Linked DNA regions of Homo sapiens. The protein of the gene in region 1 interacts with the protein of each later gene in a pairwise test. Each region holds a gene or a part of one and is shown on either strand. Other genes may lie near its edges.

Evidence for each region.
Region 2: the proteins of PKP1 (region 1) and DSC1 interact in a two-hybrid assay, tested with the Homo sapiens proteins (one study listed by BioGRID).

Annotation. Positions count from the first base shown.
Region 1 is NC_000001.11:201,280,164-201,296,712, forward strand, and holds the start of PKP1 (plakophilin-1), read left to right. Parts: upstream 1-3,342; 5' UTR 3,343-3,539; coding exon 3,540-3,741; intron 3,742-13,778; coding exon 13,779-13,882; intron 13,883-16,549. UniProt on the Homo sapiens protein: A component of desmosome cell-cell junctions which are required for positive regulation of cellular adhesion.
Region 2 is NC_000018.10:31,154,181-31,171,056, reverse strand, and holds the start of DSC1 (desmocollin-1 isoform Dsc1a preproprotein), read left to right. Parts: upstream 1-8,200; 5' UTR 8,201-8,462; coding exon 8,463-8,525; intron 8,526-11,527; coding exon 11,528-11,612; intron 11,613-13,483; coding exon 13,484-13,686; intron 13,687-14,894; coding exon 14,895-15,014; intron 15,015-16,127; coding exon 16,128-16,283; intron 16,284-16,876. UniProt on the Homo sapiens protein: A component of desmosome cell-cell junctions which are required for positive regulation of cellular adhesion.

The DNA.
Region 1 (16,549 bases):
TGCTCAGTCAATACTTGTTGAGTAAATGAACTCATATTTCACTTTTTAATGAACATAGAGATGACAGGATGTGAAGTCTGGGAGCCAGAATGTTGAAAGGGAAATCTGGGTCACACTTAATGCTCTAAGGAGGCAGCAAAGAGAATTAGAAGCCCGTTCATACTCATTCCTTTGAGGATGAAAATATACTCATCTTATTTCAGAATCAAGTCAAAATTAACTTCTTTCAGGATGCTTCCCCCTGATCACCCCCAACACCTTCCAAGCCAAAATTAACCCATATCCATTAGAATTTTAACATCTAAATATATGTTCTGACAGTCACCTGAAAGCATGCCATTTCAGAGCCAGGATCATGTGACTGTGCCTCCTTGACATCTTTTCTTCACTTTAGGAGTGTTAGCCTCCTTGCTGGTTGATTTCTGAGACAGGCCCCACATAGGGTGGGGCTCAGGCAGGCAGAAGAGAGAGAGAGATTATGGAAATAGCATTGGCCTGCTGGCTCAAAACCATATACCTGAGCCCCAAACCAATCCTCCCAGCCTGAGTATATCTCCCTCACCGTGGCCCAGAATGTGTAACCTGACTTCTCTTTCCTCTCCTCCTCTGTCAGAAGGGCCTGATTCAAGATGTCCTGCCCTACAAATCCCCACAATCGACAGAATTATAGAATGTTGGGGCTAGAGTGGAGTTTAGGAGCCACGAAGTTTACCCGCTCTCTTTGTAGATTGGTGCAAGGGACGGAGGAAGGCACTTGTCTAACATGAAGCTAGTTAGTGACACAACTAGATCAGGAACCCAGCTGGCCTGACTTTCGTGCCCTGTGATGGGAATGGATGCTGTTAAAATACCTATCCAGAGAAGGATCTGCTTGTCACAGAGAAATCTCGAGGCGGCAGCCTGGCACTGCCACTGAGTGTCCAGCTCTGGATTGCAGTTGCCTTGTCTGCCTGTTGCCAGCTGGGTGGCCTCATGGAACTTCAGTTACCTCATCTGAAAAAGAAGGGTGATGGTGCCCACCTCATAGGGTCATTGTAAGGATTTAAATGATGTGGTTCGTGTACAGGGCTCAGAACAATGCCTGGTTGGTAGGCATGGTGTTTGGAGGAGCATAGTAAATGCTATTGCTATCAATATGTCAAAATAATGTCAATATTAACATAGTAGAGAAGTAGCTAGAAAAACTGAACTTCATACCTGGAAACAATTTTAAAGATAATCAGTTCTGCTTCCACGGACTTGCCTTTTATAGGAAGATGAGCTACTCTAATCCCCTCCTTCAGGGCCCTTCTATATCCTAGAATAGGAAAATTATCGTTATTTAAAGATGTAATTAACATTTATTATGGCTAGCATATTAGGTTTTAGATAGGCCAAATGTGTGATACAATAGAATTGTATTTTTATATGCTGCTGTGTATACTTTACAGTACATTGGGGCCCTTATATAATCGGTGTGCACTGTACTTTAATGTCCATTTTATAGGACTTTTATAAGGGAAGCTGGATGATGTGGTGGAATGAGCACTGTGCCAGGAGTCACAAGGCCTGGTTAGGATGCAGGCTTTGCCACATATTAACTGGGGCATTGCAAGCAAGCTACCTCCTCTCCTAATCAGTGAAATGCAGTGCTTGGCTGGATGAAGTCCAAGGCTCTGTCCAGTCCTGGCGGTCTATGGCTAGAGGCAGAATCTTACAATATGAAGTGATAATAGAGGTTTACAGGTATTTTGTACACATCTATGACATATTTTTTATCACATCTCTGGTTTACTTGAGGTTAAGTTCTTAGGAACAGCGCCCTCAATAATAAAACTGTTTCTATTGGAAACTATAATCTGCTTTACAATAATCTGCTCTGCAAATTGCTACTAGGAATACCTTCCTTGGGAAAGCTGGGGCTCCCCGCATGTAACACCCACATCTCAGGAGTTGCGTGAGTGACCTTCATGTACATGGTCCCTGAGACAGTCATTCAGTCTTCTTGATCCTTCCTCGACATAAAATTCCCAAAAAGAATAGATTTCTGATTGTCCTTTCCTCTGTAGATTAGAAGAGCAAACTAAAAGTAAAATATGTGAGCTGTGAGCGGCAGCCTCAAATGACAGCAAGAGTGACGGCTGTGATAGTGTCACACACTGGTGGAGGCCCCAAAACTAAGAAACTGACCGGACAGCACGACTACACAGTTCAGTAATGGATGTCCAGAATGAGAAACCCAGGGCATCAAGAAGTACAGCAAATATGTTCAGTGTTGTTTGCTTTAGGAGGCAAACAGAATGCGATACCTTTTAGAAAGATTTCCATCAAAGTAAATACTTAAAAAAAAAAAAAAACACTCAGCTCCTGTTACACACCAAATTCACTGATGTGGGCTCCCTCCACGCCTGGAGAGGATGCTACATGAATAAAGCTTCACTGCACATGTGTCCCCAGGGGTGAGTGTATATAGGGGAATGCACACAGTGGTCCCAGAATAATAAGTCCAGAGTGAAATTTCAGGGTAAAGCAGCTTTTCAATTTTTCAGTGAGGATCTGGTTAGGATCCGAGTTAGATTTAATTTACCTTAAATTAACTAGCATTCACGTATTCACCTATTTAAAATATTTTTTATTAAGCGCCTAATATTATGTGTGCCAGGCATTGTTTTAGAGGTTATAGTGGAGTTTCAGAGAGGATCCGCTGTTCACGTGGTGTTTTACCGGGGTATACTCATGAACAACAAATAACCACCGGTTTTACCAAGGCATACCCACTGTGTGGTCTGATATCCCAAGTCTGCTCCTTGATGTGGCCTTACTGCCCCTACCCCACTTTCTTCAGAGGAAGCTCCTTTAGAGTAGACTGGGTTACCCCCATAAGATGGAGCACTCCTTTGGAGCAAGAGCTATGGTTCTGCCATCAGCCCGGGAGCCTCCACCGCCGGGGTTGGTCTCTGCTATGACCTCAGTACAGAGGGAGATGGACGCCTGGCTCTCCTGGGCAGCCTGGTCAAGAAAGACTCCTTTCTTTCCTAGAGAGAGGTCTCCCTCGGTTCCTGAGCTGAGCACATGCTTTCTCAGTGAGCCGGCAGAACAGGACAGAGGGGCGTCTCCCTGGGGCCTCAAGGCTTGCGACGTTTCTTGCTCATGGGGAGAGGGAAGGGAGAGAAAAAAAAGAGCGAGCAGGAAGGCGCCCAGCGTCCCACACAGGGGACTCGCAGCCCTGCCCCCAAGAGCGCTGGCTCCGCAGCAGCAGTGCCCTGCAGCTCCGCGTCTGAGCAGCAGCAGCGCGCGGCCCGGTGGAGTGGGTGGTGCAGGGCAGGGGTGGTATATCCTGTCTGACGGAGGGCGGGCCTCGCCAGTGCCAGAGAGGGACGAACCAGGGTGGAAGCGCCAGGAGCAGCTGCAGGGAGCCCTCACGCGGACCACGCACTCTATGGCCGTAGGGAGCCGCTGAGAGCGAGAAGAGCACGCTCCTGCCCGCCCGCTGCACCGCACCTCGCCTCGCCTCTCTGCTCTCCTAGGCCCCGGCCGCGCGCCACCCGCCTCCCGCCACCATGAACCACTCGCCGCTCAAGACCGCCTTGGCGTACGAATGCTTCCAGGACCAGGACAACTCCACGTTGGCTTTGCCGTCGGACCAAAAGATGAAAACAGGCACGTCTGGCAGGCAGCGCGTGCAGGAGCAGGTGATGATGACCGTCAAGCGGCAGAAGTCCAAGTCTTCCCAGTCGTCCACCCTGAGCCACTCCAATCGAGGTAAAGGCTCGGCCCCCGCGTGGTCCGTGCGCCCCTTTCCAGAGCACCCTGGCCCAGTGGCGGGGACCAAGAGACGCACGCATCCCCGGGGATGAGGGGAGGCGAGGGGCTGCCGGCCCCAGGCAGGGTCTACGCACCTAGTGCGAGCAGCCGAGCTCCCAGCCGGTTCTGAGCTGGTGTAAACGCGACCCGAGGCTGGCTCGACGGCCCCGCGAGCTCGATGGCGCGCTAGTGGGCAAGGATGGGTGATTCACCGGGACACAGCCAGGAGCATGTCCCAGCGTGCCAGGAGGTTGAGGATCCCCCGCGAGCGGTTCTCCTGTCCCTGAGCCCTGGGTCTGGACGGCTTTCTCTTTCGGATGCTGCTCTAGGGATCTGCCCTGCATCCTGTCTGGCCCCGGCTGTCCTGGGGCCCATGGTCCCCGCGCTCGCAAACGGTTGTGGGCCACCCTTCACCCTTCCTGGGCTTGATCTCCTGGCCTTCAGCTGGAGGCCGATGCCCAGCGTCCAGGCCAAGGGGAACCCCAGTCCCTGTGGGGCCGCGCATGAGTATCCGCGAGCGGGGTGAGGGAGTCGCTGAGACAGGAGTGCAGCTCAGGAGAGGCGCTGCGGGACGGGAAAGTGGCACAGGGAGCAGGGACGAGGGCCTGGAACTCCAGGGCACTTTATCGAGAGCCTCCTGAAAGAGGCTAGCCTAGTTGGAAGGCCGCCCCAGGGCCAGTGGGTCCCTTGACGACAGGGAAGGGGGTCAGGGATGCTTTCTTTCCCGAATAGCCAATGCAGAAATCCTCTTTCCCACTGGATTCTTCTTACCCCACCCAGCTTAGGTAGAAACAAGTGTCTCATGGGGAGAGTACGGAATGGCAGGTTGGAAATCCCCCCGGGCCCCAGGGAGACCTCCAGCTGAACCCTCACGGGCACTTTTCCAAGCTGGATCCCGGGCCTGGCACCCCCTCCTCCAGCCTCTGAGAGGCCAGATCCCATGACTGGGGGAACCTGGGAGAAAGGGGCAGCACCCAGGAAACTCAAGGAGGAAGGGGCAGTACCTGACAGGGGAGAGCTTATAGACCAAGTAAACACTTTGATACAAAGGATGCCTGGTAAGAATTACACACAAGTGAGCAAAGATTCCACTTGTTTATTTATTTACTTATTTTATTTAGCTAAGTTTAGTAAAATGCTAATAAGACTTTACCCATTACCAAACAGTACAGGTCAACCAAGACTTATGTATTAAGACAGGCCTTAGGAGAGAGTGAGGGGCAGGGGGTAATAAGGTGGAAGGAGACAAAAGAAACCGACCCTGGCCCTTCCACCACACACACACACACACACACACACACACACACACACACACACACCTCACACTTCCTTCTACCTGTGGCTTCTGTCCCCCCACCTACTCCCTAGCCCCCATTCCTGAGTGGCCCCTTGTAGAGCCGAGGGAAGGAAAATGGCCGGCAGAGGACTTCCTGGGCCCCAGACCTAAAGGCCTTTGCTTCTCTGTGTGCTCTTTGCCTTTGTGTGGGCTCCAGGCTCCTCTCGTCACATTTCCACTCAAGATCATGCCACCTCCAGAGCACTTGCCTCCTTCCCTTTTATTTGGTGCCTTGGTAGGTGCCTCCTAGCCTCTTTAGAATTAGGTTTGGAATAACAAAGTGCCCCCATTTCTGGCTACAGCCCAGAGCACAGCTCAACCTACTCTCCTCTCTGCACAAGACTTGGCTGTCCCCTTCCCACTCCCACTCCATCCCAGCCTGAGCTCTTGGCTCACAACTCCAGAAAACTCAAACCGGCCCTGGGTGCCCCAAGGACCCCTTTTTCCTCCTACCTATCGGGATATTGGCTGAGTGTCTGTCAGCAAGAAGTGCACTTTCTGGGCTTGGTCTTTGTGGGGAACTTCTATCTGATAAGGTCTCCTTTGTTCCCTCTTTGTTTTTCCTCCCAAGGTCCCCCAGGGGGCTTCACTGGGGGAGGGTTGATGCTGATGGCTACCTCTCCAGAAACTCCAAGGTCTAGCCCTGTGGGCGTGTCCCCTCTACCCTCAGACTCTGCGGAGGTTCCTAAAGGAGGCTGCAGAGGCATCCTTGCTGGAAGAGGCGGTTTGGTCACTTGGAGCTGGTGTTTCTGGTTTATCTGGCTTAGTTTTCATCAGATTTCCTTGTCTTCTCCATCAGAAACACCCAAACGTCCCCTATTTGCTCTGCGGCCACCTCTACTCACTCTGCTCCCTCTTTCTTATGCTGGTTTACCTGTCAGGAGCCTGCTTTGGTTCCTGGAATGGAATGAGCTGGTAGCTGTGGAAGGACCATGCCCCAGGCGTTTTCCCTCGCCCCCTGGACAGATTCAGGTTCTTGTTTAGTCTCTTCCAAGAGCAGAGTCAGTTTACCTAGGGTCTTCTTGAGCCCCTTGAATCCCATCCAAAGTTTCCCTAGTTAAGAAGGGCCAACCATACCCCACAGGTTGCCTGGAAGAGTAGCCACTGCTCCTTGTACCCCAGGAAGGACAGTCAGGACCAGCCATCCTTGGTCCTGTGATAGAAGTGGCTTCTCAGTTCCTCTCCACTAGTGCTCTTTTCTCTCTTGTCACTGAGGGAGTATTGAGCCACTGAGGACTGGAGGAAGGGCCCCTGGAGCCTGTCACAAAATGCCTGTCTGCACTCATGCTCTCCCTGAAATGCCACAGATCAGACAAGCACCTTGCCCTGGTCATGAAGGCCCCGGGCAGGAAGAAGGTGGCTTCTGTGGCCTGGAGACCTTGCAGAAGGAGGTTGCTCTGAACCTGCCTACCCATCTTGAACTGCCCCTGAAGTATTGCTCCCCTGTGTTTTCAGGCTGTCCCTGTGTGCCTCAGGGTGTCTGGCCTCCTTTTCTTCCCAGACTGTGTGGAAGGCAAGGGGAAACTGAGGGGGATGTCACCACCCAGCAAAAGATCTTTGCCAGGGAAATGACCTCCCTGAGGATGGGGAAGGAAACACTTATCCACCTTCCAGATCTTTATAACTTCACTTGGAATCTCTTCCTAAAGCTGAACCTGAATCTCACTTGCCCTAACCCAAGCGCTCCCCCGCCACTGTGAATACAGATCACACCCAGCTCAGTGAAAGGAGCTTCCTTTCACCTGTCCTGTCTCCTTCCAGGGAAGTCCTAACAACACCAGCACCATTGCCTGCTTTGTCTCACTGCCTGCTTAGCCATCTGTGATTTTTTATTTCAGCCTTTGGCCTGAAATTCTCTTTCTCCCTTCTTCATAGAAGTACTGTTTCCCATCTAAAATTGCTAAGCCTCTATTTCTCTCTGATCAGAGGTAGGGGCTGGAGGCAACATTGAGCCAGGGGAGGTGCCTGCTCCCTTTCTGTAGTTCCTGTGTCTATTCAGCCCTCATCAGGGGAGAGGGGGGCATGCTTGTACGAACTCCGCAGCCTGCACAGTGAAGGAGCTCGCCTCAGGAGCCCCCACTTTGATGGCTTTTTGTATTTGTGTTTGACTATGTCTCAGCATGAGCTTCTGCCCGAGTGTTCTGCTCATTAGAGTTTCTAGAAAGTTGTCCTTTCCTGACCACAGGCATCACTTCTGGGGTTGTTTTCTTGGGACCGAAGCTGAGATTGCAGATGGTAATGGCTATGTGTGCTTTAGCTTGTTCCATTGGCGAAACATACCAATTAAACTTCAAATGAACCAATTCTTGTTTCTTTACAATGTACCTTGGCTTGAAGTTGGAGTTTTAGCCAGAATTTCCGTTGGCCTGTTACAACACATGCAAAAATGCTGGGTATTCTAGGGTGTTTTGCAGCAAATGCTGCTTCTCTGGATCCTGCTCCTTGACAGAGATTTTTTAAAAGTACAAATTCCTCCCCCGACCCCATACCATTGTAAGTATCATTGTGCCAATTGTTCTAGGTTTAGAAATCTGGGAAGCGCTTCTGCGATGGGCCGTGACCCTTACAAGATGTGTAATGTTTGAACAAAATAAAATGGACGAATGTTAGATATCTTCATGTGAAGTTCCTTCTAGGCATACGCTGGACACATGCGCACACATGTATACACACATAGGTCACACATGCATATATGCATGTATACACAATACACCCCACACATGAATCCACACACCCACACATGCACACACGTACACACACATAACATGCACACACTTATGTTATGTGTGTGTACATGTGTGTCCTTGCAGCTGTGCTGTGTCAGGAGCCCAGCCTGGCATCTACCTGGTGTGCGATCTTGGACAAGTCGCTGCCTCTCTTTGGGTCTCTGCAGCTGTCAGAGGTTGGATTAGATCATCTCCAAAGTGCTTTGCAATGGGAACACTCTTTGGAAATAGATTTTATAACTCTCTAGCTCTGCAAACCATTTGCCCAGACCGCCAGCAGCTGTTCTGCCAAAAAGCTCTTCCCCTTAAGGCATGCCACTCATCGTGTCTCTCTCGTAAACATCCTAACATATTAAAAAGTCTTCTCATCCACTCTTCTCAAACTTGGCTACATATTGGAATCACCTGGAAATTTCAAACAACACAAATGCGTGAGTCCCACCCCCAGAGATTCTGACTTAGTGAGTATGAAAGATGGCACGGGCATCAGGACTTCAGAAACTCCCAGGTGATTCTCATGTGTAGCCAAGTTGGAGAACCACTGTTCTAGTCCCTGTCCTTCACTCACACAGATCCAGCATGGGGGAGCACCCCTATACAATGACATACACCCATGTCTTTCTCTCATACACACACACACACGCACACTTAATGTAGTAGTTGCTGGCGAGAGCCTTTGACTCTGAACCCCACCTGAACCCGTCAACCCTTGCCCACTCTAACCCACCACCCTGCCCCCTCACGCCCATCCTGTCCCCACAGGATGCTCCCATGCTCTGCCCAGTCCTCAGGCTTGGTGGTGGCCATGAACAGATCTGCTGAAAGAGCAGCAGGATTGTGGCAGAGCTAGGTCTGAACGCGTCCCAGCAGAGCCTGAGGGAGTCACATGGGCTGGAGAGGGAGAAGAGAGAACACAGGCCACAGCAACCCAGTTTGTTTCAGCATTTCTGTTCAGTACGTACACCCAGGAAAAGGTCAAGAGCCACACCAAAGTGCCCGGTGAGGCTGTGCTGAACTCCTTGCCCTCCCCATCTCCTAGAAGCTGCCGAGTTGGGGAGGCATGTCCACGGTGCTCCCAGCAGCCCAGCAGAGGGGGCAGGAGGCTGGCCAGCCCAGTCCTCCCTCCAGGAGCTGGAACCATCCCGCAGACACAGTCCACTCCTGCCCACTCCGAAACACCTCTGAGGGTATTCTCTCAGCAGTAGCTTCCTGGCAGTTCTTGTTATCTCATTTAAATTCCTATTGCTGTGGGCCTAGCTTTTCTGGGCACCATGGGTGAAAGAGATTTCAGAGGGTGAAGTAAAGGCATTTTCAAGACTAAAAGAAAATGAGCTTCCTTTCTCAAGCTTTTCATGCTGAAGGACAGGTGGGCTTTATTCAAAAGTAGAATATGCTAGAAGAAGCATCGGCCTTAAGGGAGACAGAGTAAGCAAGAATGTGTTCCGAGCAGCTTGCCCTGTGACGAAGGAGAAGGATTTGAGGGGAGGGAAAGTGGAAAAAGCGGATTTCCCTATGACCTCTGTCTGCAGGAAGGCTGATGTCCTGAGAGCCTTCTCTATGTAGAACCTGGGCCTGGGATTGGGGGTGTGGAGTGTGGATCTACCAAAGGTGAAGATTCCTTGCTTCAGGGAGCTCCCAGCTTGGTTGGGGAGACCCAGGCCCTACCTTCTGGGAGGAGTGCACACACACACACACACACACACACACACACACACACAGTGTACAGAAGCCACATTCCAAGGAGCCCACAAGCCAGTGCAGAGTCAGCCGCTGGATTGAGTGCTGACATGGTTATGCTGGCAAGTTTGGAGTGCTCAGAGCTGGGTGCGGTCATCTTTAGGAGAAGCTGATTTTTGTGCAAGGTTTTGAATGCAGGGGGAGGGTTGGAGAAGAAGAGAAAGAATGTTTCAGGTGCAGTAAGTGTGACCTATTTGAAAGCTTGGAGGTGGAAGAGGATGAGTCATCCCTGCAAAGGCTCACCTGCCCCTACTGGAGAGAGATTTCCACTCATCCTAAAGAAGGAGCTGCCTCCAGTTTCAAAGGTTTTGAGGCGAGAAAGCTTGAGTTGCACCGATGACACAAGAAAGAATCAGCCTGTCGTTGTCTAAGGCACCAAAGGGAAGCAGTGTGCCAGGACACTGGTGACCTGAGCGGTAGATTTTCTGAGATGGTTTTACACCCTAAAACGCGGATGTAAAATCAGACGAGCTATGTGGACAGAGCAGGTTGTGTTGCTTGTATACCTGGGAAAGTGGCAGATGCTCTGAGGCACTTGCTCCTTGACCTTGGGGTTCTGTGGGTGGGCAGATGCTTCCTGAGGATGGCACACAGGTTGGGCACACTGTCAGTGTCACCGAGAAGCCACCACATCCCTGCTCATGCTGCATGCACCCATATGGGGAGAAGAGGGGCAAAGCAGATGCTTAGCTGGAGGGTAGGAGTGATTCTGTGGGGTGAGCTGGGAACTAGCCCCTCCCCCATTCCCCAGGAACTAAGAATCCTCCTCAAGGAGGTGGCCTTGGGTATTTGAGAGCTGCAGCAGCCCTCCTCTCTTCCTGGTTTACCCCACTCACCAGGGACCTCTTTGAGTGGGAGGAGAGCCTGACCCCATTCTAAGCCTCTAAGCACCAGGCATCAGAGCACGTTCACCACAAGGGTTGGGCAAGGGAGAAGAGGTCATTGACGCAAAGAGCCAGCTCAAGCCAGTCAGGCCCAGACCCAGCTGGGGCAATGCCCTGAACTCAAGGTCCCAGGGAAAGAAAGACATGGTTCGCACTTCAGAGAGTGTCCAAAGTACATGGTGGTGGAGACTTGTACGGGCGTGAGATGGAGATGGGAGTAGGCGTCATTCATCAGGAAAGGCTTCCTAGAAGTGCATTCTAGAGACATCGGGGACCAAGTGGAAGAGTGAGCTAGCACCATTACACTCATTAGAAGCCCATGCTCTTGCTATTGAACTTGACTTTTAGAGGGCATTACTTACCAGTCAGACACCCCAGGGTCAAGAGAGGGAAAATCACTTTTGTTGTGGGAGCAGTGCTCTTACAGACAGAGCACACCTGCCCCCAGTACTCCTTGGTTATCTGGCACACTGCGAGCTGTGATTTCAGGTGTGTGACAACTATGGACTTTTCCCCTCTCTCACCACCTCCGCCCCAAATACTGTCACCTTCTGCCAGATTAGCAGTGCAGGCAGGTGTGATGTTACCCTCATTCTCACCAGAGCCAAGCAGACCCCAACTACAGATAGGTCTTAGGAGATGCCTTCAGGAACTGCCTGGAAGGGCCTGCAGGCCACAAGTGAGTGACAGTCACACCTGCCTTTACCAGAGTTCATGCTGGACATGGGGACTGGCTTTGGGAACTGCAGGGCATTCTGGCCTCTCCCTCCATGTGTCTGTGTGTCCACTGCCACCTCCATGGCAGAGAGGCCTCTACCTTCATACAGAGAAGAGTGTATGAGAGGGAGGCAGGCAGGTGCAGGGTGTGGCGGGAGGAGATGGTTAGTCTGATGACCCATGGGGAGAGCAGCATCATGCTGACAGGTTCTCTCCCAGAAGACGGGCAAGAAGGCCCTGGTGCAAGCCCCCCGGGGCTGCTTCTCATAGCAGGAGGCCTCCCCGGTGCTCCATAAAGTTCTGTCTGTCACCACCCCAAATTTTCCACCCAGAAGCAGCTGACTGACCCACACCTGACCTTTGGTGAGAAATACCTGCTCACAGGGCCAGATCCAAATGAACTCTATCCTATCAAACCTTGGAAGAATGATCAAAGTGGGCTGGGTGGAAGGGAGGCAGACAAGACCTGGTGGTTGGCCACCTAGGGTCCTGACTATGAGTGTGCCTGGCTGCAGCCCCCTTCCTTGGGAGCACCAGTCCTGAGTGACTGAGCCCATGAGATTGCCTCCAGCCTCTTCCTGATAAGGACAGTCTTGCCAGAGGAGCGGTTGCTGGAGAAAGGTGGAGGAAGAGCTGTGTGCACTCTACAGGGAGCTTGGAGGAAGCCAGAGGTTCAATGGGCCACATGGCAGAGTCCCAGGATGTTGCTCATAGGCGGATGGCCCTTCTGGAGTCAGGGCTAGGCCTGGAGTATAGGGGAGGCCTCTCAGAGGACCCTGAGGCAGGTGGCAAACGAGGCGGTAGTGTGGCCTTTGATGTCTGCCCTTCTTCCTTGTAAGCTGAGCTGTGTCTCTGGAGAGGAGGAGTCGGCTCCTCTGAACGCAGTCAGGCACGTGTCACTATCATCACACCACCACAGGGCAGTGGAACTGTACGGGGCCTATGGGAGGTAAGAGGCCAACCCTCTCTTTTGACAGAAGAGGACACTGAGGCTCAGAGAGAGCAAGTGACTTGCCCAGGTGCCAGAACCAGGACAAATATCAACACCGCTAGGCCCCCAGGGCAAGCTGTGTCTGCCACAGCTTGAGACCCCTAATGTCCATGATGGAAGGGTGCAGAGAGTTGGGCAGCACTCTCTGCTGTGGGCTATGGGTGGTGACCTGGCGCTGGACAGGGGAGGTGGCACGAGGTGGGGATCCCTGCCTCATTCCAAAGCTGCCCCTTGGCTATTCCCTCTACTCCCAGCTCAGATATTCCAGCCCTGCTCCCCCAGGCAATGGCCGGGGAGCCTAAGTGGGTGTGGCAGATGGGGAGGAGCTACCTTGGCTGGGTGAGATCACTGCCCAACTCTCTTCCCCACAGACAGGGTTTCCGATGGGGGAGTCTGACCATCGCTTTAGAGAAAAGGAGTGCATATCCCTCTTAGGAGGCTCTCACTGGATCCCACTCACCTTCATCCCCCAAGGCCATCACTTAACAAGAGTGTGGGCCAGGCCACGGAGCCATGGCTTGCTCTTCGTGGAGCTCCCAGTATAGCTGAGGGAATGGGACGCAGGGCAGAATGAGACTTGGGCTACCAAGAGCAGGACAGTATGTGTTTAGAGGCAGGAGAGATTGCCTTGTGCAGAACTGATCAGAAAGGGCTTCCTGGAGTGGGTGAGGTCTTGAGCTTGGCTTCAAAAGATGAGCAAGATTAGAAGGTAGTGGCCAAGGAGGGAAGGCAGGTTTGGCATGGAGGGAGATGTGAGTAAAGTGGTGAGCCTGTCACCATTGGCCATATTTCAAGGACAGCAGGACAGTGAACAGACCAGCTTGTGCAGAGTTGATGCTATCCCTTAGGGTGTCCCTGCTGGCCAGTGAAAGGGAGATGAGGGGGGTGGCCCCACTAGGAGCCCCAAATCCAGTTCTGTTTTCTGTGATGCAAAGCCACTTTGCCACTAATAACCCTAATGACACTCTGTCCTCCTGCGGAGCCTGTCATTTGTGGGTCTCCAAGCACTCCGAAAACATTAATTAATCCTCACTGGGCCTTTGAGGTTGATCGCCGCTCCCCCTTCACCAGCCAGAGCATGTTAGAGGTGAAAGAATGGGAGGAAGTTTGGTCACTGGTAGGGGCTGGGCTGAGATTTGAATCCAGAGTCCTGTCCTGAATCAATCTCTAATCAGCTGTTGCTGCTGGACTGGGAATGTCGGAATCCTGCCTGTCTCCCCTGAGTGGGAATCTTATCCTTGTGGAACATGGAGTGATGATTCCCTGGGCTGGAATGGCCGTGCTCCAAGGCCCTCCAGACCAAGTCCTGACCTGTAGGTGTTAACCTACCCAAGCAGCAGTGGAGCCACTGGGCTCCCAGGAAGGGGACAGATGAGAGTTTTAGAGCTGTCCCTGCAGGAGTCTGTGGTAGCCCTTCCCTTGGTCCCGGCTGTGGAGGATGTGGAGATAGATGGAGATGACATTCCCCACCTTCTCCTCCAGGAGCTCAGACCTGGTCTCCTCCATGGGCATAGTGGACCTGGATGCAGAAGTGATGCCCTGAGGAACAGGGGTGGATGAAGATCATGGCCATCCCTGTCCTAATCCCCTCCTTTCTCCTCTAGGTTCCATGTATGATGGCTTGGCTGACAATTACAACTATGGGACCACCAGCAGGAGCAGCTACTACTCCAAGTTCCAGGCAGGGAATGGCTCATGGGGATATCCGGTAAGGAACTGCTTCCATCCTAAAAGACCTGGAGTACTTGTGGGGATGGTTTGAGGTTTATAGTGGAGAAAACCGGCACCAGTTGCTAAAAAGAGTGATGTAGGCTTTGGTCCGTGAGTTGAGGCTCATCAACTCTGACTAGGTCTGTTGACTTGGCCATTGTTTCATAGGTGGCTCTCGTTTGGGCTGACTGGATATTTTTGAATGTCTCAAATGATAATATTTTAGGAAAAGCATTTTTAAAAGGCATTTAAAAACAAGTCCATTTCCCAGTAGGTCTGATTTGATCATGGATTTGGGAAATGTTTGCATTCTTGAGGTCTATTAATGGACCAGTTTAGATGTTTCTAGGAAAATCCTAAAGGGTCATCTCTGTTCGTTCTGTGCCTATGGTCAAAGAGCCAAGAGAACATGTCCACTGCATTGACTCCTGCATATGACACTGCATGCTAGAGTGGAGCCTCCCTGACAACCCGACACATTTGGGTTCAAATTTTAACTCTGCTACTCACTGAGATGTGGCTTTGGGCAAGTTACTTCAAACTTTGGGACTCAGCTTCTTCACATGGAAAGTGGATATAACAAAGAACTTCTGGGGTCATTTTCAGGATTAAATGAACTAATGTACATGAAAAAAGATTACAATAATTCTTAAGATTATTTGTTAAATTAACATGGATAGAGGTTATTTTAGATCCTGTAATCCTGGCTCTGTCTGCTTTCTAAGTGATCTCAATCCACTATACTTCATCTATCCATTTACTGAACAAATATTTATTGAGCCCTAATTCTGTGACAAGCACTGCAGTAGATGCTCAGGATACAACCACACCAGCCAGTGCAGGAATTTTCTGCTGCTCTAAAGTCAGGAGTACCGGGCTAGATGACACCCAAGGTTTCTCCTAGCCTCCAAATTCTATGACTTTCATTTACTTTCGCTGATGCAACATTAGCCTGCATTATTCTTGGGAATTCTTTTGTAAGGCCCTCAAGACATTGTCAGATGGGGATTAAAGGCTGCTTCTCTGTGGGAATCTGGGGTTCTGTCTTGGTGGGGCCTTAGGATGAAGCAGCATTTGCTTTAAGACACAGATGTCTCACAGATATCACTCCTGATTGACTGTCAAAGGTCCTGGGTCCTGGGGAGAGGAGAGGGTGAGGAGTTTATAAGTTTGGTGTTCTTTTGTCATTTGCTTGATTCTTCCATTCCTGAGTTCTTTTGGGGGCTAATTTTGGAGGCTATGTCTTTCTTACATATTACAGCTTGGGGATGAAAGGAGACAATTAACTAGATTTGCTGTGAATTTACTTCCCTCGCTTTTTTCCTGATTCTTGATGGCAAATGACACTCTTAGTGCAAAATAAACCCAGCACACTGAGCCCGGTAAACTGACAGATCAAGCACAGATGTGAATAAAAGGGCTTTTACACAAAGGGTGATGACCAAATTGAGAAAATGGCTTAGGAATGCAGCATAAAGGGATTAGATGAAACCCAAGGAAGGCAGATCACTGCACCAGCAGCCGGAATGGATGATTATGCTGACAGTACAGATGGTACGTGTCTTTACTTAAATGACATTACCAGTTCAGAGCTTAGGAGGCTTAGGTTCTAGTCCTAGTTCTGCCCCTCTCTGGCTCTGTGACTTTAGATAGTTTAATTTCTCTGGGCCTCAGTTTTCTCATCCATAAAAAGGGAATGATGATACTCGTGTGTCTACTTCACTCACGGGTTGATATCAGATGACATTAACTGTGAAGTATTATCAAATGGGTAATGTAACCATGGAAATTTGTAACCAAGAACTGTAAAGGAACTCTTTCGGGGAAGGTGTTTCTAAAGAAAAAAAAAAAATCTTCATTTGGCCCATGTTGAACATTTCACTTCTGGTTAATTAACTCAGTCCTCAGTCATCTCACTAGCTTTTAATGCTCCCAAACTGTCCTCACCCCTCCCTGTGCCCATTTCCTGACAACCAGTGAAAATCTCTTTCCTTCTCCCCACCCTAAGACCCAACCCTCCTTACTCCCTCGCTGGCAGGACTGCAGACATGACTCATGGCAGGGTAGCTGCTGAGGCACGTCCCATCTCCTTTCAGTTCAGGAGAGGCTGTGGGAAGAGGGAAGAACTGAGCACACATGAAGATTTGGCAGAGGGAGGAGGCCAAGTAGGGAGGAAGTGGAATAATTGATATTGGAGCCAGACATATAATCAGATGAAACCTGGGCAAAACCAAACGAGGTCCAGACATAAGGAGAAGGAGAGCAGGCGAAAAGGCAATAGAGATCTGTGGCATGAGATAATCCTATGTCCGTGGGATTTTCCCATGGATGGTACAACTGGCACAGGACGATGTTATTCCTCCCCTCTGGTGAAACCAATATGGCAGCAGAAGGCAGGGAGGGTGGGGAGGAGGGTGTAGTTTGTCTGCACAAGCATCATCAGCATATTTTCAGGAGCTTCTGAGAGCTGATGAAGGATCATTTGCTGCAGATACTTTATATTCACTCGGTCAGCCAACTTGTATTGAGCAATTGCTGGGGCACAGCAGTGAGTGAGGTGCGCTACAGAAACACAGTTGAAAAGAATCTGACTTTGCCCTCAATGAACCTGCAGTCAAGTTAGAAGCACAGAGGTCAACAGACAAATAAGATAAAGGCATTAGTT
Region 2 (16,876 bases), on another chromosome or scaffold:
TTTTCACGTTTATTTGAGCATATCCTGATGCAGTGCATAACACATAATAGCCACTCAATAAAACCAGTTGAATTAATTCATTCTTCCATCCTCCTTCATCTTCTCCATTTTTTTCATGCCTTCTCTCTCTTTTTCTTCTCTTTTATTCATTTGTTATATTTTAATCAAGCATATTATTTAAAATGTATAACCTCGGGTGTTTTCCATTAACTAGCTTATTATCACTACATTCTCTAATTTTGTGTCACAACATTAAAAAATCTTCAGTGTTGTGATTTTAACTGTTCTATTTGTTCAGTGACATGTGTACAACTATTTATCTTAAAAAATAGAACTATAAAATGCTTTACATTTTGTTTGTTTTTAGTGGTACAAGCCAACTATTCTTCAAACTATATCAGATATCTCCATTTTCTAGTACACCCTAGTAAACAGAGTATTTTCTAGCCTACTCAAGAACCAACGTAAGTTGTAGACGCCTCATTTCTGTGACTTGGTTCCTTCCCCCTGTAATTCTCTCACTAGCCTTGGGTTGGTGGTCTCCTTCCTCTCTCTCTCTCTCTCTCTCTTTCTCTCTGTGTACACACACACATACAAATACGTTTTTTTGCAACATAGGGAAAAATAAAAACAAAACAAATACTGAAATTTACATGAAAATTACTCTCAAGTCCAAGCACAATAAAATAAAAGAAAATAAAACGTCATAAGAAACACCTTATAGATCCTTTCTACTTTCTTTTTTCTTTTAACACAGGGTCTCGTTCTTTTGCCCAGGCTGGAGTGGAGGGCATAATCGCTGCTCACTGCAGCCTTGACCTCCTGGGTTCAATTGATCCTTTTCTTTTCTTTTCTTTTCTTTTTTTTTTGAGACGGAGTCTCACTCTGTCGCCCAGGCTGGAGTGCAGTGGTGCCATCTCCGCTCACTGCAACCTCTGCCTCCCCGGTTCACGCCATTCTCCTGCCTCAGCCTCCCGAGTAGCTGGGACTACAGGCGCCCGTCACCACGCCCGGCTAATTTTTTGTTTTTAGTAGAGATGGGGTTTCACAGTATTAGCCAGGATGGTCTCGATCTCCTGACCTCGTGATCTGCCCGCCTCTGCCTCCCAAAGTGCTGGGATTACAGGCGTGAGCCACTGAGCCTGGCAATTATTTATTTATTCAGTTTTGCCCAGGTTGGCCTCGAACGCATAGCCTCTCCTCCTTGCACGCCAGGGCAACCGGCCAGAGCCACCGCAGCTCCCAGTCGATCCTCTTATCTCAGCCTCCTGGGTAGCTGGGATTACAGGCGTGCACCACCATGACCGGCTAACATTTATATTTTTTTGGTGAGACAGGGTTTCCCTATGTTGTCCAGACTAGTGTCAAACTCCTGAGCTCTAGTGATCCGCCCACCCTGGCCTCCCAAAGTGTTGGGATTACAGGTGTGAGCTACCACGCCCAGCCTACTTTCTAGCTTTGGCCAATATCCTGTCTTAAGTTGTTCATGGTGTGAATCTGTACATGCTTCTCCCTCACTAGGAAAACTTTATATCCTAATTACAAGTAATGACAACAACCTAATCTCCACCCTCCTTCCCTTCCATTAGAAAAATCTATAGGATATAGTGGTAAAGAAATACATTCCTTAAAAATTAAATTATTTCATCTAAGATAACACCACCAGAGCTTTGATGAAACGTACTATAACGTACCTTTCAGAATAGTAGCAAAATAGGAAGAGATTCAACATAGTAGCTTACGTTAAACTGAGGTAAAGCTCAGTTTTTCATTGTACCTGAGACCTTTGATTTGTCTTAGGTGAAAGACAAGCTTGCAGGCACTCACAAACATCTCCAAGGTACAGGAAATAATTCTCAGAAATATTCTAGTTTAAATTTCTCTGTGGAAAAGGAAACTTTTACCAAAAGACAGCACAATCTGTCATCTTCTCTATCCACATCCCTACAGGAGAAAGTGTTTTATTTGATCACGTAAAATAGTTTCAGTCTTCCATTTTCATCTTTCTAATTTTTCAGTACATAGAAATAGCAGCAGTTTATAGTGATCATTGGAAAGATCAGCAATTTAATCCTTCATCTTCACCCTTAGACCCACAAAGCAGCATCTGAGCCATTGAGTTTATGGTTTGTTTGTTCGATTAACCTTAGGTAAGATAAATTCTTAAGGGCATTTTATGAAACACTATTCAGAAACCAATCAATAGAGATTCATTTTTGTTACGTCCAAAACAAGGTGCAGAAACCTTGAGGATTTGGTTTTATATTTAGTTCAATAGCAAAGAAATAGAAATGGTTTCTTTGAGTATGCACCACATTTGCTATACAAGTAACAACACCTGCATTTCAATCTAGCCAACAAATCAATTTATAATGCTCTGGGTGAGTTTTGTGGTTGTTAGTTCCAAAAATGCCAATAGTTTCTCAGGAAAGATTAGGTTTTCAACCAACTTATAAAACAAAAATTCGATTTCACTGTCATCGGATTCAATCACAAACATATAATAAAAGGCTAGGTATTAAAAGGAGTAACAACTTTCTGATCTCAAAGGAAACCCCATTTAAGAGAGAGATTTACTTGTTAACTTCTTTGGTTTATTTTAAATGTTATAATTTTCTCATAGTTCCAAATACCTGCTGAGGTATTAAAAGTGCATAGAGGCCAGGTGCTGTGGCTCACACCTGTAATCCCAGCACTTTGGTAGGCCGAAGCCTGGAACACCTGAGGTCAGGAGCTTGAGACCAGCCTGGCCAACATGGTGAAACTCCATCTCTACTAAAAATACAAAAATTAGCTGGGCGTGGTGGTGGACGCCTGTAATCCCAGCTACTGGGGAGGCTGAGGCAGGAGAATCGCTTGAACTCGGGTGGGGATGGGGTCGGAAGTTACAGTGAGCCAAGATCCCGCCACTTCGCTCCAGCCTGGGCCAAAGAGTGAAACTCTGTCTCTCAAAAAAAAAAAAAGTGCATATGCATCATAAGAGAAAATGCAACTGCTTGGAAGTCATGAAAAAGTACTCAACATCATGAATAGGCAAATAATTCAAATTCAAATCATGTCTATAATTTCTTTCTCATCAACACAGCAAGATTTTAAAAAATTAAATGACTATATTCAATTCTTACTAGGATATTTACTGTTATATTGACAGTAAGAAGGTATATTGGTATTCTGCTTTGGAGATGCAGGTTAGCTTTATATACCAAAAACCATTATGTTTCTTATATTTTGACCTAGAACTTCTGTTTGTGGGTCTACATCTCAAGAAATAATCCTGAGTTCAGAAAAAAGATTTATGTATTAGGGTGGTCTTTATAATAATGAAAAATTGAAAACAACTTAAATGTTCAATGTTAGGAACTGGTTAAATCAGTTGTGATATAGTTATTTGAAGGAACTGATTACAGTCATTAACATGGTAGCTATATAGAGTTGTCATGACATAGGACAGATTTTATAACTAGGAGAAAGCATGCTACAAAATTACATTCATAGTGCAAGTATAATAATGTTAAAAATTCTATACACAGAAACCGGACTGGAAACATGTATATTAAAAAGATTATCTTTAGTGAGTATATATTACCATGCTTAAAATCAACATTTAATAATGTGATTCTTAATGTATAAGTAATTGATAGTAAGATTCCATCCACATTAAAAAATACTTTTCAAACGTGTAACTTTGAAGACCACCAAAGGAAATAATAATTGGAGAAAATAGCAATAAATAAAAAAAAATCTAAAGTATTTGTTATATTCATTTCACCAGGATTTTAATCCTGAACATCATAGAAACTACTTTAACTAATTTTCAAACCGTACAGTAAAGTGTAAGCTCCATGAAGGGAGATATCATGTCTTCTTCAATTCTGTATAATCAGCACCACTGGTAATACTCAGCATACAGGAGGTGCTAATACATAAGTGATGAATAACTAACTAGTATTATTGAAATAACAATTTGAAACAGTAAGTTTAGTGGACATCTGTTGATTTGCTTGTCTAGTTACTTTTTATCCTTTTTTTCTGTCTAGCCTAGTGTTATCTTTGGGCAGTCACTTCTTCACCACTTTTTGCCCATGTGGTCAGGTCCACCACTTGACTTTAGGTTTATGTAAAAGATTCAGGCCAGAAGGATTGTGTTTTGCTCAAACTATTGGGAACAAGACATATTCTTTCAACAATGACTTGCTAAACCATTCATTGTTGAAATCCTGGAGGTTCTGGTGGTGATCTTTGCCTCCACACTGGGCAAAACTGAAATAATGAAACCAACACAAAAAAAGGCGGAGCTAAGAGATGGAGAGAATTTATGCTTAAATCTGAGTTAGGCTACCCCCAGCCTTCCAGTTACATGACCTAGCAAATCCTTTTGTCCTCAATAATTTTGTTTTGTTTTCTCTTAAGCCAGTTTGAGTTAGGTATGTGGGCTGAATAGAAAGAGTTCTGAACTACCCAGAGATGTGTGCTAATGTTTCTTTTCATAGGTTTGACAACAGTTTTGATAATAATGGGGAGTGATTATTTTATATAAAATTAATCACTATTCTACGCAAACAGCCTTAGGAAATCATTGTTAGTAATTATTAGTGCACATGAGTTACTTCTAAGTTTTAATAGCCCTTTACCCAGGCAAAAGACTGTGAGTCTAGTGAGATTGAAGGAGTTTCCACTGCAGTACACTGAACTCATGGGAGCCAAGCTTTTTTTTTTTTTTTTTTTAATAGCTAACAGTTCTTTTTCTTTGTTCATACACTTCACCCATACTAAACTCACAAACCCTTTTTTTACACCTGTAGTTTTTGGTATATTTAGTCATTCATATTTAACCCAAAGTGCCTTGTAATGGCTTCATCAATGTGTACAGCATTCCTACCAGTCTAGGAGTCTTTTAGAATAAATTAGGTCATCTTACAGAGATAATGGTTCTCTCTGTAAATGGCTTTTTTGAGGCCCTGAATTTATTCATAATGAGCCCTTTCTGTAAGTTGGTCATAAAAAAAATCTCTAATGAAATTTGTCACTGTATTTCCATAAAATATATTATTTAAATTTATAAAAAGGTGTTTTTCCTTGATGTGCCTTAAGGTTAAAAAAAAAAAAACTAAAGAAATACAAGAGTCATGTGGATCTTTACATTTAAATCTTTCTCTGTATGACCATAAATGTGTGGTAGAAAACAGATTATGCAATACTTATGTATTTAAAATAAAATATTTTCTTCTATAGGGGTTTCTCAACATTTAATCATTGTTCTTAATTTCTCTTTAAATGGCTAATATATTTAATATTTGCTGCAGTGCCTCTTTTTATCTTATCTTTTGAACTGGAAAGATAACTGCATGTTCTTCACCATAAAGTGTGCCTTTATTTTAACGTCATAAGATTTCTGTCTTCTTTTTTTCACCCTATATGATGCTTTTCTCCTAGCAAAGGCCAGAGCCCAGTATGTAACCCCTTAACTACTTGTTCAATGAATAAACCTATTCATGTATCTTTAGGTAGCCTCTACATAACAGACCTTGGATTTGCAATAACTTTGTGTTTGTTTCATTTGAAGTTCAGTCTCTTCAACTTTTTATTGCATGCCTAGGCAATTATATGGTGTAAAATATTAGTGCTTGCTCTGAGCCAGACACTGTTGGAAGTATTTTCTTTATAATATCACATTTAATCTTCATAACAACCTATGAATTAGCCACTATTATTGTCCCCATGTTATAAAGAGACCGAGGCACAGAAGAGTTAACTAACTTGCCTAGGGGTTATACTGCGAATAAGTAGTAAAGAGAGGATTTGCACCCAGGCAGTCTAGCTTCTAAGTCCAAGTTGTTAACCACTAACAATCTTTTGCTTAAGCTTATTAATTTAGACATAGGTTAAAACAAACAAACATACAGATAGAAATAAAAATAAAATAGAGCTTGCAGTGGTTTGAATGTCCCTGCCAAAAGTCATGTTGAAATTTTGTTGCCGTTGTAATGGTGTTAGGAGGTGGGACCTTTAAAAGTTGATTATGCCATGAAGTCCCCACCCTCGGGAGTGGGTTAGTTATCATCAGAGTGGACTTCTGATAACTGGATAAGTTAGGCCACTTCCCTGTCTGTCTTGTGCACTGGCTTCTGTCTTCTGCCTTCCATCATGGGATGACCCTCATCAGATGCCCATGCCATGCTCTTGGACTTTCCAGGCTCCTGAACCATGAACCAAACAAATTTCTGTTTTTGTTTTGTTTTGTTTTTTAATAAATTACCCAGGCTATGGTATTTCTTTACAGCAGCAGAAAACAGACTAAGACAGAGCTCTTACTGAATGATCTAATGCCAGAAAATTGGAAGAAATATGTCTTGTTTTCATTTAATTTTAAGGTAGATTCACGTTTAAGGAAGAGTCAATAATTTGTAATAATAAATTATTTTTTCCTATAAAGTGCCTATATTTTATTTTTAGGAAACCTTTGTGTGCAAATACAAAATATGGGAGAAATAGTAATGTAACAGATTTGCAAACCAATAATTTGGGGTTAGCTTTTACACAAGTTTTTCTATTACCTTTGAGAAAGATAGATAATGGGAAAAGAGAGCACGCAGAAAGTAGGCCAAAAGAAGTAGGATCAGAACATCAACTTCCCAGAACTGTGGAGAGTATTCTGGATTCATTTGAATTGAGCAGTGCCTGGAATCTCTTCATCCAACCAATATATGCCATTTTTTCAGTAACACCAATTTAATTTTGCTCTTCTATATCTTCCTAGTTCAGTGGAGAATATCATGTTATAGAAAAAGGTAATGATAACTTCATTAGCTGAAAAAAATGTGTTTCTATTTTCTAGGGTTGGAGAATTTGTCTTTGAATTATTTAAGCTGTATGACTATCTATTTATCTGTCTATCTATCTATCTAAATATATACTTAGATGATGCTTAAACATGCACAGAATTACACTTGGCTGTACACATATACATCTAAGTAATTTTTCTATTTCTATATTCCCATTCTTTTCTCCCAAAACGCCAGATATAAAAATATTCCATTAAAATGACTGTATTTTCTGATTGAGAAATCAAATTCCAATGCAGTCACAAAATATGTTTATTAGTGGGTATACCACTAGCAATAAAATACTACAAGATATCTTTTAGTTTTTTTTCTCCTGGGTCATTCATTTTCCAAATCTTCCTAGCTTCTAATTCTAATGAAGCAGTTACATTTATTTCTGTCTCTACATACAAGGAGAAATTGTTCCCATTGTCAAATAAGCTGAAGAAAACCTTTCTTTCCTCCCTTCTCAGCAGCATGGGTGTTGGGCTCTACCTTAACATTTGAAAATATTTATCCTTCTGTCCTAACTTCCATCACTGCCATTGAGTGCAATTGGTATCACTGAGCTCACTAATTTGGGACAGGAATAATGATGCTAAAGCTCTTGTTAGAGGAATCATTAGGGTTTAAAAAAATCTACACTTGATGGCCTGATTGTACTATTAAGCTAGGATATCCTATGTGTAATGTACAAGTAATTAGGGTGAATAGAGTGATTTTAGAGAGACTTGCTCTCAAAGATTGTAGTTGTCCTTGAAAAAATATAAAGGTAAAAAGCAGTGGCATCTTGTACAACAAAAGGAAAGCCACAAGAAAGATTATATGCTAGCTATTTCTTTATTCTCTTTCTTTTATGAAGTCTTTACATTCTGATAAGTTTCCTGTGACATCTAGAGAACCAACCACAGTGAATAGTCAATAACAGGAAGTAGATACCATGCCTTTATGAAGTTGCTGCTTTAAACTGGAATGCCAGTTCTCTAGCAGAACTACAGTGTTCTACAGGACCGATGACACTTAAATGCTTAGATGGGAGATAACTTCTGATGAGTGTGATTACACACGCTTAGGTCCTCTGATTTGCCAATGGCAGTTGAGGAGGCATCACTTCCTTGCATGGCGTTTGTGCACAATTTATGTTTGTACCCGAGGGCAAGACAGGTTAATAAGGCCAAGAAGGAGGGGAGGCTGTGGGAGTGGGTAATAACTGGGGAGGACTTCACAGCATCAACCTGGGGGAAAGGGAGGAGGGCTGAGGATGAAGGGTGTTCCCTCCTCCTTCTGCCTATGTGTTAAGTGGCAAGAGAAATTTTGAAAGCTGCTGTGAGGAGGAGCTACTGACTGGGTTTTGGGGTGTTTTGTACCCCACCCTCCTCACTTGTAGGAAAGCCTCTTTGCATTTAGACGTAATTGAACTGGAAGGAAGGAGACTGGCCAGGGAATAGGGGGAAAGAAATTCTCCCGTTGCTCCTCCTACTGTTTATCACTTGCCTCCGGACTGTCTTCCAAACCAAGCTCAGCTGCATCAAGGTGGCAGCAGAATACCCTGTGCAAGTGCCAGCGTCTTCTTAGCCGCTCTGTGCATCCCAGGCTGCCCTGTTATCTGGCCACCGTCCCTGGCCATTGGGACTGCTTCTGATGGCTCTGGCCTCTGCTGCCCCAGGGAGCATCTTCTGTAAGCAGCTCCTTTTCTCTCTCCTGGTGAGTAACAACCAAAGGATTAGGGAATTCAAGCATGTTACTACCTGCTTCCTCTCTGCAGTTTGGGCTTGAAAGAGACTAGGAGTGAGGATGGGAGGCAGAGAAGAGAGATTGGGGAAAACAAAAGCAGATCTGAGGAAGATTCAGGGAAGAGTTGAGAGGCTTGGGATTCAGGATGGAAAGTGTTCAGCTTACTTCTCAAGCACCCACTGCCAGAGTGTTAAAAGTTTTCAAGGGAATCCCTCTTCCATCCTGCTGTGGTGATTTTCTAAGAGTAGAGAAGTGAATTCATTCTTTAGGCATTTGGCCCAGAAGTTTCTGAGGTTTACTTCTGCTACCAGTGATTACATAAACTCATGTTATTTAACATGCTGAGTTCTACTAAGCTGCAAAAAAAGAGAAAGGATTCTGGGTGAACATGCAAATTATCCAGGACTTTTTGAATTTTACCCACGAAGCAGTTTAAGCAAAGAATAGTTTAAGAAAAATAACAAAAATGTGACTGTCATTGAAAATATCCTCAACTTGGCTTCCACTTGGGTTTTTAATAGCTTTGTAACTGTGTAAGGTGCTATTTTTTCTTTGGAGGTGAGGGAAGAGAGGGGGGTTATTTCACACATCCGTCCATCATTTCTGAGGTGTGAGTTTCCTATTTTTTCATTTTAGCAAAATACTTGAGTTTCAAAATATATTTTTAGAAATGGCAGGTATGAGGACAAACATTTTCTCCATGTAAATAATATACAATGCAGGGTTGATGGTCACCTTCTCATCCTGTAACTGCTTAGGGAGACGATAACTCAGATACCATCTTAAGTTAGTACAAGTTTGGTAAAATGTGGTAAAAATGTTTCAAAGGATTCTACCCACATTTCTTTTGCTTCTGATCCCTGTACTGTCTAATATCTCTTGGACAATTCATCTCCTGTTTATTTATTTCTGACTCTGAAACTGACTAAAAGGGTGTCACTAAGCCACTTAGTCAGTGATTTAACCTGAAGACGGGAATAGTATTTAATGAATGGAAACCTTCAGTGGCTCTGCCTGCAGAGGGAGGACCATCAACATGGAATCCTAGGACAAGAAGGAAAGAAGATGGGGGTGGGAGTGGAAGTGTGGATATAACTATAAGAATGTCTCATATATTTATATATATATATGTACATTTATATATATATACACACACGCACATATACAGTCATGCTCTGCAAAACAATGCCTCAGTCAATGATGGACTACATATATGAGTGGTCCCATAGATTATAATGGAGCTCGTCTGTATAGGTGAACCATTTTTTATCTTTTATATTGTATTTTAATGTACTTTTTCTATATCTAAAAATGTTTAGTTACACAAATACTTACAATTGCCTACAGTATTCAGTAGAGGAACATGCTGTACAGGTTTGTAGCTTACAATAAGCTATACTATATACTATACACCTAGGCTGTACCATGGTGCATACCATGGGGCATACATATATAAATCATGGTGTATACCATGTAGGTATAACCCAGGTGTGTAGTAGACTATATCCTCTAAGTGTATGTAAGTATACTCTATGATGTCTGCACAAGGATGAAATCACCTAACGTTGCATTTCTTAGAATGTAAGCAATATATGACTGTGTGTATATATATACACACATACACATACATATATAGGTATAGGTATATGTACAGGTATATGCATATGTATGTGTACATATGTATATGTATGTGTTTATGCATAGCCTAATTACAATATGCTGTTTCCACATTGTATACTTAGACAACTATTAACAGTATGGTCTATGCTTAGAAAGTTCTTTAAGTATAATTTATTATGTTCCTTGGCATTAGGGATGAACATATTTAAAAAGTTAAATAAATACGAATGTCTCACGTTTTAAAAAGTGGTTTTTAAATTAGGACTAAATAAAAATGTGGCCTTTTAATTCCAGATTTCTGCCTAACATAGATTTTTGTAAAATTACAAACTATTTAATTAGACTGCTACAGTATATCTGGTAGACTTGAGATGAGCTGGAAAAGAAGTGCACATCCTTAATATGGATGTTAATCCATTCTCTTTCCTCCTCGCAAGTAATGGGTCCCGTAACTCTAGAATTCAGAGAAAAGCTGAAAGCTGATCATAAAATTGACCTACATGTTTCTGGAAAACCTAGCTCTACTCTATCTTATATTTAAATAATAAAAAAGCAGTTATTTTGATAAAGAGGAACAAACAGAAAATGCCAAGAAAAAGAAGTAAAATATATTTTGAACCTATAGACATTTTTGAAATGATAGCTTTTCTTTTGTTTTTTTCAGATAGTGTCTATGTCTTTGAACTACCTAGGTTTTAAAAACAATAGCTGGGCCTTGAATTTAATTAAAAATCTTCACCCATCTGAAGGATACTCTCCATATTTTGACATATATTTCTTTTTAGATTAGTCATGTGATTTGAGATCATTTAGATTTTGGCGTTTTGGCCAAGTCAGTCACAAAATTGATTTGAGAACAATGATTTTTTGGGGGCATTATTTTTCTGTGAGGTTAAAAAAGCCCTTAACTATTTTCTAGACTTCATCAACTATAACTTCAAATAGTAAAATGATGATTAGAGAATTAGGGCATATATGTAATTATGCATTTCAAAGGTAAGTATTTTCTTCATGCTAAAAATCAGAATGGCATTTATGAATGGTCTTAGAGACGTATAACTTCTATATAAAGTCAATGGTTTGTGAAATATTTTCTTGCATTGACACAATATGATTTAGGTTCTAAGAACTACTATTCACTTAATTTTTTTCATTGACAAATAAATGACAGTGCTATTCCTAAAGCTATTCTCTTTGCTGGTTCCTTTTAAAGTGAGTATTAAAAATGTAAAGAATTAAATGATTAATTTGTTTCCAAAATTGACAATATTTTTATCAATAAGAAAAAGCTACAATGTGAAAATTTGTGATCAAATTTAATTCCTGATATTTTTTCTTTTTTTTTTTTTGAGGTTTTAACATTACTTTGCGATGCTTGTCAGAAAGTTTATCTTCGAGTTCCTTCTCATCTTCAGGCTGAAACACTTGTAGGCAAAGGTGAGAAACACTATTAACAGTTTCATAGCTGTAACTTGTCACATTTAGCTGCAGGCTGCTCTTGTAAAGTTTGGGATAAAAACCACATAGTAGGCCGGGCGCGGTGGCTCACGCCTGTAATCCCAGCACTTTGGGAGGCCGAGGCGGGTGGATCATGAGGTCAGGAGATCGAGACCATCCTGGCTAACAAGGTGAAACCCCGTCTCTACTAAAAATACAAAAAATTAGCCGGGCGCGGTGGCGGGCGCCTGTAGTCCCAGCTACTCGGGAGGCTGAGGCAGGAGAATGGCGTGAACCCAAGAGGCGGAGCTTGCAGTGAGCCGAGATTGCGCCACTGCAGTCCGCAGTCCGGCCTGGGCGACAGAGCAAGACTCTGTCTCAAAAAAAAAAAAAAAAACCACATAGTAGCTACTTGAAGTTAAAATCGGATGTACAATAAAAGACAGGCTACTTGTTTTTTGGTAGTGGTTAGAAATAATTAAAATACCAAAGTTAGTTGTATACTTCTCTTGCCAAAAAAATTAGCAAACATCAGAAGGCTCAATTATCTTGGATTACGTCAAACAAAGCAAGGCACCAAAACCAGGAGCATATTCTAATTTGTATAAACTAATCTGCTGCCAAAATTTCAAAGCCAAGATTCTTCAATTGATTAGACATGAAATGGATGTCTCAAAATCTAAATGCCCCCAATAAAATTTGTACTTGAGGTTGATTACAATGAACAAGTATCCACCAAGAATAAATGTGACATATTTCACAGAACAGCTTGTGAAAATCAAATACAGTTTTGGTGGGTCTTAGTACCATAGCCATCTCTGAAGTATAAGTTGGTTGTTCTGAGCCCAAACGTAAAATTTTTTTCATCAAGGTTTTTCACTGGCTTTGCATTCACATGTAAAAAATTACAAACAATACAGAAATGGTATCCTTTCCAAGCCAGATGTTGTTTTGCCCAGTGCTTTAAGGTTTGAAATTAATAAACAGTCCACACTCTAAAGACACATAGTAAATACACTAAATGTGTTAAATATGAATCTGTAAAGGAGGTAATTTGATAATAACCACAGCGCATCGGGTTTACTAAACCTTGAAAGATATTACAGAAAGATTATTTGCAATATTACTGGGAAATATTACTTAAGAATAGACTGGTTTTCTTCTTATTTATTTATTTAGAGACAAAGTCTTGCTCTGTTGCCCAGGCTGAAGTGCAGTGGTGCTATCTCTGCTCACTGCAACCTTCACCTCCCAGGTTCAAGCAATTCTCCTGACTAAGCCTCCTGAGTCGCTGGAATTACAGGTGCACGCCACCATGCTTGGCTAATTTTTGTATTTTTAGTAGAGATGGAGTTTCACCATATTGGCCAGGCTGATCTAGAACTCCCGACCTTGTGATCCTCCCACCTCGGCCTCCCAAACTGCTGGGATTACAGGTGTGAGCCACTTAGTTTTCTTATTTTTGGCAAGATAGTTTTAAGTATCAAACTACTGCAAAAAGTTCAAAACCTACTGACATCATACGGTTATACCACTTATGACATAAAAAATCAAGTTTGTATACACATATATAAATTTATACACACACAATAATTAAGAGTTCAAAGAAAAGAGAATAAAATCAGTGACACTAGGAAAATATTTTATTTCTCAAATTAATGTATGACGAAGGTAGTGGAAAATGTGACTCCATTAATATAATTATTTAATTTTCATGGCCCCCACGTTTTAGAATAGCAGGTGCTGAGCACATTCCAAATGTAACCTCCCTTTTTCTGCTTCTCATGCATTAACTCACGGCTGTCATTCCTGTAAAACTTGTTCCACTCCTGTTTCATCTGACAAACTGCTGTGATATTTCTTCCCTGCAGTGAATCTGGAGGAGTGTCTCAAGTCGGCCAGCCTAATCCGGTCCAGTGACCCTGCCTTCAGAATTCTAGAAGATGGCTCAATTTACACAACACATGACCTCATTTTGTCTTCTGAAAGGAAAAGTTTTTCCATTTTCCTTTCAGATGGTCAGAGACGGGAACAACAAGAGATAAAAGTTGTACTGTCAGCAAGAGAAAACAAGGTATAAGGCAAGGGCTTAAGCAGCCTAGCACAGTAATATGCTTACGGGAGTCCTTCGTGTTTCATGTGTTTTAACGTGTTTCATGTTAAAATCTATGCTATTGAATGACAAATTTGTCTTTTCCACTTACAATTAGTGTAAATAAAGACTAGACTTTTAAGGAGTGGCAGAGCCATTTACAAACTTTTATAAAGATGAATGACTCTGTAGACCAGGAGCAAAGTAAGAATATCAGAGTTTTCTAATAGTGATTTCAAGTTTGGGAATAAGAACAAACCAACCTGAGGAGCAAGGACAAGACAGGGGCGGGTCTAAAACTCAGCGAAATGTGATTCAGGCTGGAGATGTGGGCTCCACCCTGTGCGGCTCTCTTCCCACTGATTGCGGGTTTGAGTCTCTCTTTAAAGAGGAGAAGAGACTGTTTAAAGCTTACTCCCATCTTACTAGAATATTCTATAGGGCAGGCCCTCTCTTCAGAGAGTGGAGGTGTGGCCAATCCACAGAATTGATTTGAATGTTTAACTCTAGGCTCATTTTCTTGCACTGAGCGGTAGAGATCAGTTCAGAAAGCAGGGAGGAAAAAGTTGCTGGAATTCACATCTCATTTTCAGCAAATTCACCACAATGAATTTCGTCTTATAAAACCATTTCTTAATAAATGATTCTATTTAGGAGAGGATTTCCCAACTAAATTCTTTTTGATTGTATGAACTCCTCTTAATATGCTTAAGACTTTAAAAATGTTATTTTATATCCACATTGTAAAATCCCCACATTATATAAAATCAAGTATACTTGAGCAAATGCTGACCTGTGTCTACATAGATGTATAAATGATTGTATTGTGGAGTGAGGGTTTTAACAGATTTTGGTTGTGCCAGTCCTAGTGGAATAAAGTTGATCCTTAAATATTTATTAATGAATTATCTATTTTAGGGGGAGTTTATACTTTCTCAAAGTGGCATCTTTCCAAATGCCCTATACATTTCCTGGTGGTTAACTGAGTAAATAGAGAAATAGGTAGAACGGGGGAACATAATGTAGTCTGAGGTGTGTGTGTGTGTTTTATCAATAGAAATGCTTTGCTGACTAGCCATGATATTGTAATGTGTAACCCTTACATCTGCTTGTTGATGTATGTGTAAAATAATCACAGTTCCAAAAAATGATAAGCAATGCTACATTTCTTTGTTTCTTGTCAAATGTAGTCTCCTAAGAAGAGACATACCAAAGACACAGCCCTCAAGCGCAGCAAGAGACGATGGGCTCCTATTCCAGCTTCATTGATGGAGAACTCGTTGGGTCCATTTCCACAACACGTTCAGCAGGTGCATTTCACTTATTTGATTTTATATGTGTCCAAATTTTTTTTTGTTCTTAAACTTTTCATTTGAATTGCACAGCATATTGAATCAGAGGTTTAAACTAATGGTACAAATAATGATCATCTATTCACCAGAACTAGGGTCCCATAGAAGTGACCCAGTATATCTTATTACTTTCTTACAGATATCATATTTAGAAATTTAGAAACAAGTTTTATATTTGGAGTTTCTGGTGCTCTTAGGTCTATGTCTAAATTCACCCAAATACTATGCTAGACTTGTTAACACTAATGTACAGAAGGCACACCTACATGTTTTGCATAGTTCAATTCTTGCTTAAACTAACACTCATCTTTTATAAAAATGACCTGTATTTCTGCTTACCAAGTAAGATTGCCTCACTGCCACATAGCTGGATTGCAAACATAGAACAGTTTTGAAATTTTGGAGTATAGTGGCATCAGCTCAGCTCACCGCAACCTCTGCCTCCTGGGTTCAAGCGATTCTCCTGCCTCAACCTCCCGAGTTGCTGGGATTACGGACACCCACCACGAAGCCCAGCTAATTTTTGTATTTTTAGTAGAGGCAAGGTTTCGCCATGTTGACCAGTTTGGTCTTGAACTCCTGATCTCAGGTGATTCACCTGCCTAGGCCTCCCAAAGTGCTGGGATTACAGGTGTGAGCCACTGCGCCCGGCCAAAATTTTCTAATTCTTGAGGAATTAATTGTGGAAGAAAAGTTGCTTTACTTCTAGTTTTATTATCACATAATTTTCAATTCCAAAGAATTCAAAATCACGGAAACTGTTACTATTATTTATATGAAGATAAGAATAAATAGATAAAACTTGAAAAGTGTATTACTCTACATGTTTTATAGATATACAAATGACAAAAAAGTTGAGATCAAATAAGTGACAGAATTTGTGGCTTTGCACAATGCAAAATGCAAATAAAAATTCGGAAAACATGGCAGATAATGGGCACCTAAGCAGAAGAAAGAAAGAATAGGAGAGTAGGAAAGAGGGGTAGTGGTAAAAAAATAAACCATCACAAGAGGTTAGGTTGAAAATATTCATCATGACGTATTTGTTCTATTCCTAAATTATTACTGCAGATCCAATCTGATGCTGCACAGAATTACACCATCTTTTATTCCATAAGTGGGCCAGGCGTGGACAAAGAACCCTTCAATTTGTTTTACATAGAGAAAGACACTGGGGATATCTTTTGTACAAGGAGCATTGACCGTGAGAAATATGAACAGTTTGCGGTAGGATTATTGAAATATTTATTCATAATTATATCTTTATTACTGGCTTACTAATATTTTCAACTATGCTTGTTTACATATTATAAGAATCAATTATTTGATTTAATATTCAAGATATTAATATGCAATATAAACTTTAAATTTCTATTCACCATTGATGGGGAAAAACAGTGGATATAATAAGGGAAGTGGCGGGGGAGGTAAAGAAAATATAACGATGGAATTTTAAAGGATATATTTTGGTCTGTAATCCTGGAGAAATAACAAAGAGTTTTACTGAATTTAAAGTTATCCATAATAAAATGACTCAGTTATTCTCAACCATGGCTGTACATTATAAGTCATGTGAGAACTTGAAAAAAAATACTGATGCTTGGACCCATGCCCAAGTATTCTGATTTAATTGTTCTGGGATGAGATCCAGTCATCCAACGTGATTCTAAATGTGTAAGTGTTGGATCCACTGCCTTAGCCCCTTACATAGCTTTTTTTTTTTTGCATCCCTTTCTCTCACTATTCTTCAGCAATGAGATCCCTTAGTACCATTTTACTTCCTTAGTAACCCAGAACAAGTTTATCAATTCATTTGATTC